Linked DNA regions of Homo sapiens. The protein of the gene in region 1 purifies or fractionates together with the protein of each later gene. This does not show direct contact. Each region holds a gene or a part of one and is shown on either strand. Other genes may lie near its edges.

The links. The genes of interacting proteins can lie anywhere in the genome.
Region 2: the proteins of EARS2 (region 1) and PCDHGB4 purify together in Homo sapiens (co-immunoprecipitation; one large-scale study listed by IntAct). This does not show direct contact.

Annotation. Positions count from the first base shown.
Region 1 is NC_000016.10:23,533,163-23,536,949, reverse strand, and holds part of EARS2 (nondiscriminating glutamyl-tRNA synthetase EARS2, mitochondrial), read left to right. Parts: intron 1-1,589; coding exon 1,590-2,062; intron 2,063-3,787. UniProt on the Homo sapiens protein: Non-discriminating glutamyl-tRNA synthetase that catalyzes aminoacylation of both mitochondrial tRNA(Glu) and tRNA(Gln) and participates in RNA aminoacylation for mitochondrial protein translation.
Region 2 is NC_000005.10:141,390,412-141,394,198, reverse strand, and holds part of PCDHGB4 (protocadherin gamma-B4 isoform 1 precursor), read right to left. Parts: intron 1,567-3,787; exon of another isoform or gene 1,386-1,566; coding exon of another isoform or gene 1-1,385. Other genes in the region: PCDHGA8 (protocadherin gamma-A8 isoform 1 precursor), read right to left, coding at 1-1,385. UniProt on the Homo sapiens protein: Potential calcium-dependent cell-adhesion protein. May be involved in the establishment and maintenance of specific neuronal connections in the brain.

The DNA.
Region 1 (3,787 bases):
CAGCACTATGGGAGGCCGAGGCGGGTAGATCACGAGATCAGGAGTTCGAGACCAGCCTGACCAACGTGGTGAAACCCCATTTCTACTAAAAATATAAAAATTAGCCGGTTGTGGTGGCAGGCACCTGTAATCCTAGCTACTCAGGAGGCTGAGGCAGGAGAATTGCTTGAACCCTGGAGGTGGAGGTTGCAGTGAGTCAAGGTCACGACACTGCACTCCAGCCTGGGTGACACAGCGAGACTCTATCTCAAAAAAAAAAAAAAAAAAGAAAAAAAAAGTTTTTTTTTTGAGACAGGGTCTCGCTGTGTCACCCAGGCTAGAGTGCAGTGGTGCCATCATAGTTTACTGCAGCCTCAACCTCCTGGGCTCCAGTGATTCTTCCACCTTGGCCTCCCACAGAGCTGGGACTACAGGAATGCACCACCACACCTGGCTGATTTTGTTTTGTTTTGTTTTGTAGAGACAGAGTCTCACTATGTTGCCCAGGCTGGTATTTTAAATTTTTAAATAAGAGACAGGATTTTGCTATGTTACCCACGCTGGTCTTGAACCCTTGAGGTCAGGCTGTCCTTCTACCTTGACCTCCCAAAACACTGGGATTACAGACGTGAGCAACTGTGTCCAGCCCTGTGCACCATTTATTGATTGATTGAACACTTAGCTGTGGCAAAGACTAACCTTACAAGCATTCCATCTGTGTCTCAGAACGCTTTTGGGTGCAGTTAGTGGAATACCCTGTTAGAAGGGACAAACGATACTTTAACTCACAGATGGATCACCTGGGGACCTAGTTAATGTTCAGATTCTGACTCAGTAGGTCTGGGGTGGAGCCTAAGAGTCTGCATTTCTGGCAGACTCCCAAGAGGCTGATGCTAGGGGCCCACAGACCACACTTTCAGTAGCCAGGGCATCAATCATAGACATTTGTCTTTTGATTCTGCACAAGGCTGGAGGTGGGTGACTCCAGGATGAGACTAGCAGTGTAGAGACACCAGGGCTCTATTTTGGCTTCTCTCTGACTTCATTGCCTTCCCTCCTGCAGTTGCAAGTAGCTGCCGCAGGTCCAAGCATGCTCCCCTTACAGGACAACATCCAAAGAGGACAGAAGTGGGGCAGTGGGAAATTTTAAGAAGGGATTTTCCTCCTGTGGCTTTCTCTTCTTGTCCTTTGGAGAGAAAAACCTTTCCCGGAACCTTAAACCTTTCTTACTCCCCAGGCATGCTTTTCTTTGCATCCCAGTGACTAGGATGGGGTTACATTCCTGCCTGGACTGGTCACTGGCATGGAGCAATAGGATTGCAAGATTGGCTATACCAATCAGGATTCAACCCCTCGGACTAAGCATTTTGCTATTTTCTTGTTAGCAAGGAAGAAGCGTGGAATGGCTGGTAGATAGGCAGACATTAGTGTCTGCTACACCATGTTATCTCAGTTTTCCACACAACTGTACCATCATCCCTGTTATAGACTGAGGAAGCAGCTTGCAGCAGTAACTGACTTGCTTAAGGTCACACAGCTATGACAGAGGTAGGACTCCTGTCCATCAACCTTTCCATCAACAGTACTCATGCTGCTCTGCTCCCCATCAGGTATGACAATCGGTGCAGGAACATGAGCCAGGAGCAGGTGGCCCAGAAGCTGGCCAAGGACCCCAAGCCTGCGATCCGCTTCCGCCTGGAGCAGGTGGTGCCAGCCTTCCAGGACCTGGTCTATGGCTGGAATAGGCATGAAGTGGCCAGCGTGGAGGGAGACCCAGTCATCATGAAGAGCGACGGCTTCCCCACATACCACCTGGCCTGCGTGGTGGACGACCACCACATGGGCATCAGCCACGTGCTGCGAGGCTCTGAGTGGCTCGTCTCCACTGCCAAGCACCTGCTCCTCTACCAGGCCCTGGGCTGGCAGCCACCCCACTTCGCCCACCTGCCCCTGCTCCTCAACAGGGATGGCAGCAAGCTCTCCAAGAGGCAAGGGGACGTTTTCCTGGAGCACTTTGCTGCTGATGGCTTCCTGCCCGATTCCTTGTTGGACATCATCACCAACTGTGGCTCAGGTTTTGCAGGTACGTGCCCACCTGAATAGTCCTGGCAGCAGAGAGCATGGCCAGGAGGAGCAGGGCTTTGGCTCAGACAGTCCTGCTCTTTGGTCCCAGCTTTGCCACCTACCAGCCAGGTGACCTTGGACAAGTTTATTCTTTTATTCAATAAATGTTTATTTTGCCAGACACCACATTAAGTGCTGGGGCTACAGTAGTGGGTGAGATAGACATGATCCCTGCCCTCAAGGGACTTATAGTCTCTGAGCCTCAGTTGCATATCTGGAAAATGGGGATAAGTGTCTACCTCATTGGGTTAGGATTCACTGAGCTCAGGAGTGTAAGGTACCCAGCCCAGCACCTGTCACACTGTAAGCACAAAAAATGACAGACCCTATGATTGTGACAATTATTACAAGCATGTATGCTAACAGTATGACTAGAATTAATATGGATTTAGTTTCTTTTTTTCCTTCTTCATTTTACTGCCAGATGAATCTAGTTTATTTCAAGCTGAGCACTTACCCATGGTCCAAGACTTAGACCCAAACCTTGAAGAAGCAAGCATCAAATAGGATGACCTGAAGGATTTCTGAAAATGTGTCCAGAATAGCCTGCCTGCTGGTCTCATTTCATTTAACACAACATACTATTAAGGGGTAGATACATATCTCCACTGTTTGTAAGAGGATTGTGAAGCTCAGAGAAGCTGAGTAACTTGCCAAAGTCACACACCTAGTGAGGGATATAGCGCTTTAGGCCTATGCCTGATCACGATGCCTGCTGACCGTATGGGACTGAGCTGCTGCTCACAAGAAGCAGCTCCCAGCACTACGGTTCTTAACTTTTTTTTTTTTTTTTTGAGACAGAACTTCTTGTCCCCCATTCTGGAGTGCAATGGCGCGATCTCGGCTCACCGCAACCTCCGTCTCCTGGGTTCAAGCGATTGTCCTGCCTCAGCCTCCCGAGTACCTGGGATTACAGGCACCCGCCACCACGCTTGGCTAATTTTTGTATTTTTAGTAGAGATGGGGTTTCACCATGTTGTCCAGGCTGTTCTCGAACTCCTGACCTCAGGTGATCCACCCGCCTTGGCCTCCCAAAGTACTGGGATTACAGGCGTGAGCCACCGTGCCTGGCCTGGTTCTTAACTCTTGATCGTGCTTTGGAATCAGCTAGGAAGCTTCTAAAATATGCTCAGACCCCAACCAAACCCAGTTGACTCAGAGTCTCTGGTACAGCCAGGCAATGGGCGTACTGTTCTGCAGCTCGTGTCTTGAGAGTAATGGAGATGGGTTTAGCCTGATTGTTTTCAGACCTTTTTTTCTTTAATGATGGAACCCTTTCTGAAAATGAAAGCTCATTCAGGCTCTTGATATATAAATAGCTAGAAGTTAAATCCCTTTGGGCAAAGTGGAATGGGGGGCCCAGGGCTTGCTCACTCAGCCTCCCTTATGTTTGAAAGTAGAAGGAGGGCGGGCACAGTGGCTCATGTCTGTAATCCCAGCACTTTGGGAGGCCAGTGCAGGAGGATCATTTAAGCCTGGGAGTTTGAGACCAACCTGGGCAATATAGTGAAACTCCATGTCTACAGAAAAATGTATGTATGTATGTGTGTATGATGTATTTATTTGATAGAGTCTCGCTCTGTTGCCCAGGCTGGAGTGCAACGGCACAATCTTAGCTCACTACAATCTCCGCCTCTCAGGTTCAAGTGATTTTCCTGCCTCAGCTTCCTGAGTAGCTGGGATT
Region 2 (3,787 bases), on another chromosome or scaffold:
AGGATATACGCTGAGTAGGAGGCATGAGGGAAAGTAGGAGGGTTGTCGTTAATGTCTGCCACGTGCAGAGCGATTTGAGTTTCAGTGGACAGAGGTGGTGTTCCTAGATCTGAGGCCATCACTGTGATATTGTAGATAGAGACATTTTCTCGGTCCAAATATTTCCTTGTCACTAATCTATAATAATTACCTATTGACTTTTCTAATTTAAAAGGTAAATTATCACGTGTGTAACAGACAACTTGACCATTCTTTCCAGAGTCTTGGTCATGCACACTCAAGAAGGCAATTACTGTCCCGGGAAGAGAATTTTCTAACACTGGGCTAAACAAAGACGTAATGATCACTTCTGGTCTATTGTCATTTACATCTTCCACCGAAATGAGCAATTTGGTCCTCCCCAGAAGTGCCCCCACATCTTCGGCTTGTATTTCCATTTCATAAAATGAACATTCTTCATAATCTAGACTTTTTGCTATTGATATTTCCCCAGTATTTTCATTAAGCTGGAATAACGGAGTTTGTTTTTCATTAATTTTCCGGAATTTGTATGCCACTTTTCCGTTGATTCCCTCATCCGGGTCGCTGGCTGTTACAGTAAGCAGCCGCGTGCCTGGGGGCATGTTCTCAAGGACTTTCACTCGGTAAATCGGGTGAGGAAAAACCGGGGCATTGTCATTTGTATCCAACACTGTCACGTGGATGCGCACTGTGCTAGAGCGAGGCGGCTTGCCGCCATCCGAGGCCGTGAGGACCAGGTGGTGAGCAGCCTCTTCCTCCCTGTCCAGGGCGCGCTCCAGCACCAGCTCTGGGTTTATGGCTCCATTGTCTCCAGTCTGCACGTCCAGGGAGAAGTGGTGATTGGGGCTGAGCTGGTAGCTCTGGAGGGAGTTCACGCCCACATCCGGGTCAACAGCTTCTGGGAGTGGATAACGTGCTCCAGGAACCGCGATTTCGTTAATTTTTACTTCTAGATCTTCGACCTGGAATTTTGGGTTATTATCGTTAATATCAATTATTTCTATTTCTACCCCAAAGAGTTTTCCTTTATCCTCAACCAGGGTGTTAATATTTATCAGACACCGCGGGCTCTGAGCGCAGAGCTCCTCCCGATCTATCCTGCCCGCGGTGATCAAGCTGCCGCTGCGCGGGTTCAGAGCAAAGAGCTGCGTCCTACCTCTGGAGACGATACGGACTCCGTGCTTCGCCAGCTTCCGGGGGTCCAGCCCCAGGTCCTTGGAGATATTACCCACGAAGGAGCCTTTGTCCGTCTCTTCTGGCACAGAGTAGCGAATCTGTCCCCTCCCGATTTCCCACAGCGTTCCCAGCAGCGCGCACAGCAGGATCAGCTCGCCGCGTCTGGGGCGACTCTGTGGAGCGGCCATTGTTGTTTTGCTGCAGAATCCTCTCAGAATCTTCACTGTGCATAAATGGGTCTTATTTAGTTTCTTGCCGCAGCTATGGAGATGACAATCCTCCGGAAACCTGGAGTGCCTCCAAACAGGGGTCGGGTTTCGCTGCAGTCCAGCAGTTAGTTTGTGGCATCTGCGGGTCTTCGTGAGGTGTGAGATCTGAGTGTTTTCGGTTGCATTTGTCTTCCAGTAGGTGAACAGCGGCGCTTACAGTCCTAAATAGTTACTGCACTGAGATACAGATTACTTCTAAATGTAATACTCTACTAGATTACTGAGAAAAAAAAATCATTTGCTTATTACTTTGTTTTGAATTTATTTGATTTATCCGTAAACCCATATTTTAAAAGAAACAGCCAAAGAATGTGAGATGAAGGTTTTATTTAGTGTTATTAAATGATCAGATTAGATCAGAATGATCAGATTGTAGCATCGGATTAAATTACTCACATTTCTGCAATACATTTGGTCTTAAAAAAAACATGATACTTTCATTTCCCATTGTGCTCTAAGCTTTATTGTAAATGTCTCCAATATATACTAACAAATAACTAAGAACTTCAGTTGTCACCAGAAATGAATTTATCTTGAGACTAAAATAGACCTACTGGAGATGACTGACTCAGAAATTGTTTTATTTGGTTTAAACTACTTAATCATTTTACAAGCTTTCTATAGAGTTGTTGCTTTTAAATTATTCTTCTAAATGCCACTTGAATTACATGTCGATAATATTTTCAAATAAAAATTGTGGAATTTCAATAGGATAAATGCTTTTACCATTGCAGTTTTATGAGATATTACATTGTTTTGCTATTTTATTTACATTGTTTATATTTTTCTATTTGAATACTTGAAAGGTACAGATGAATATATGATAAAAAGCAAAGCTCCATCCCATCCCTTTCACCAAAGAGATGATTAAATTTAAAGCAGACTTGACTTTTACATATATTCTAAAATTAACTTTACCTACATTAACACTTTGATCTAAAAAACTGCAAAAAGTAATGACTATATAATACTTACTAAGAAGCCAAAGGATAAGTATGACTACAAAAAAGTCTGTTTCCCTTCAAGACCAGCCTGGGCAACGTAGCAGATGAACTTATTTCACCCTTCCTTTGAAGACTGGTATGATAGTTTTTTCACTGACTAAAACTTTCTTAAAACCACTCATGAAATCTGAAAACTTTATATTTTCCTGTGAATATATTTTCTTATGCATATGGAAAACTGGGTAGACAATGGAAACCATACCAGTTAAATTAGTGAAAGAAAATATTTTCTCTACTGAAAACAGAAAAATTAGCCAGGTCTGGTGGCATGAGCCTGAGTTCCAGCTAGTCAGGAGGCTGATGCAGAAGGAATGCTTGAGCCCAGGAGTTTGAGGCTGGAGGGAGCTATCATTGTGCCACTGCACTACAGCCTGAGTAACAGACAGAGACTCTGTCTCAAAAAAAAAAAAAGAAAAAAAAAAGAATCGAAAGACGTTTCCTTCTTTCAGCAATTTGTAAAGTGGCCATTAACTGAAGCAGTTGCTTAGATATACCTAGCAAAAGGCTCATATAATGTTCCTTGGTATTTTGTATATATTTTGTATGCACACCAGATTGGCAGTTTTCAAGACTATATTTCTTTCCTAGAGGTAGGAGAATGATTAGAAGACCTCTAGCTATATTAGTTTAGGGCTGCAGATAAGGCAGTTACACATTATATATTAGGGCTGTGTGTGAGAGGGACAACAGACACAAAACATTGTCTTTTCTTTGATGAAGGATATAGAATGAGCTTGAATACAGATTAATCCTGAAACTCCTATGTTACAAGTAAGGAGAATCTGCTTTTGATCTTCTAATGAGCATAGTAGACCTTTTTCTAAGTAAAAGGATCTCTCTCACACACACACACACACACACGCACACACAGCGTACACTGCATATAATCACAAGGGGTCCATGGACATAAAAATCCAGTTGACTCCTTATTCTAAGAGCTTTTGAAACAAAAGGGAAGTTAACACAGGAAACAAAACAGTGGACTACTATGGAGACCATACCAGTTAAATTAGTTAAGAAAAGTGTTGAATTTTAGCTTAAATTCTTTGGCTTTATTATTTTTATATTTATGGTATATCCAAGCTGAAAAAAGTATTCATCATATATTAGTCAACAAGAAGGAAAATGTATAGGAAAAATCTCATTCACTTTTTAGGAGAGAGCCAACAACTGTCTAACACTTTCACTTTGTGGTTAAAACCACACCCTCATTGCTTTATAAATCTAAGCTTGGCTAAAAAACAAACAAATGTTGGGCCACACAATTGCTCCTACTTTACTCCTCCTTTGTAGAATGATATGACAGCTTTTTAACTG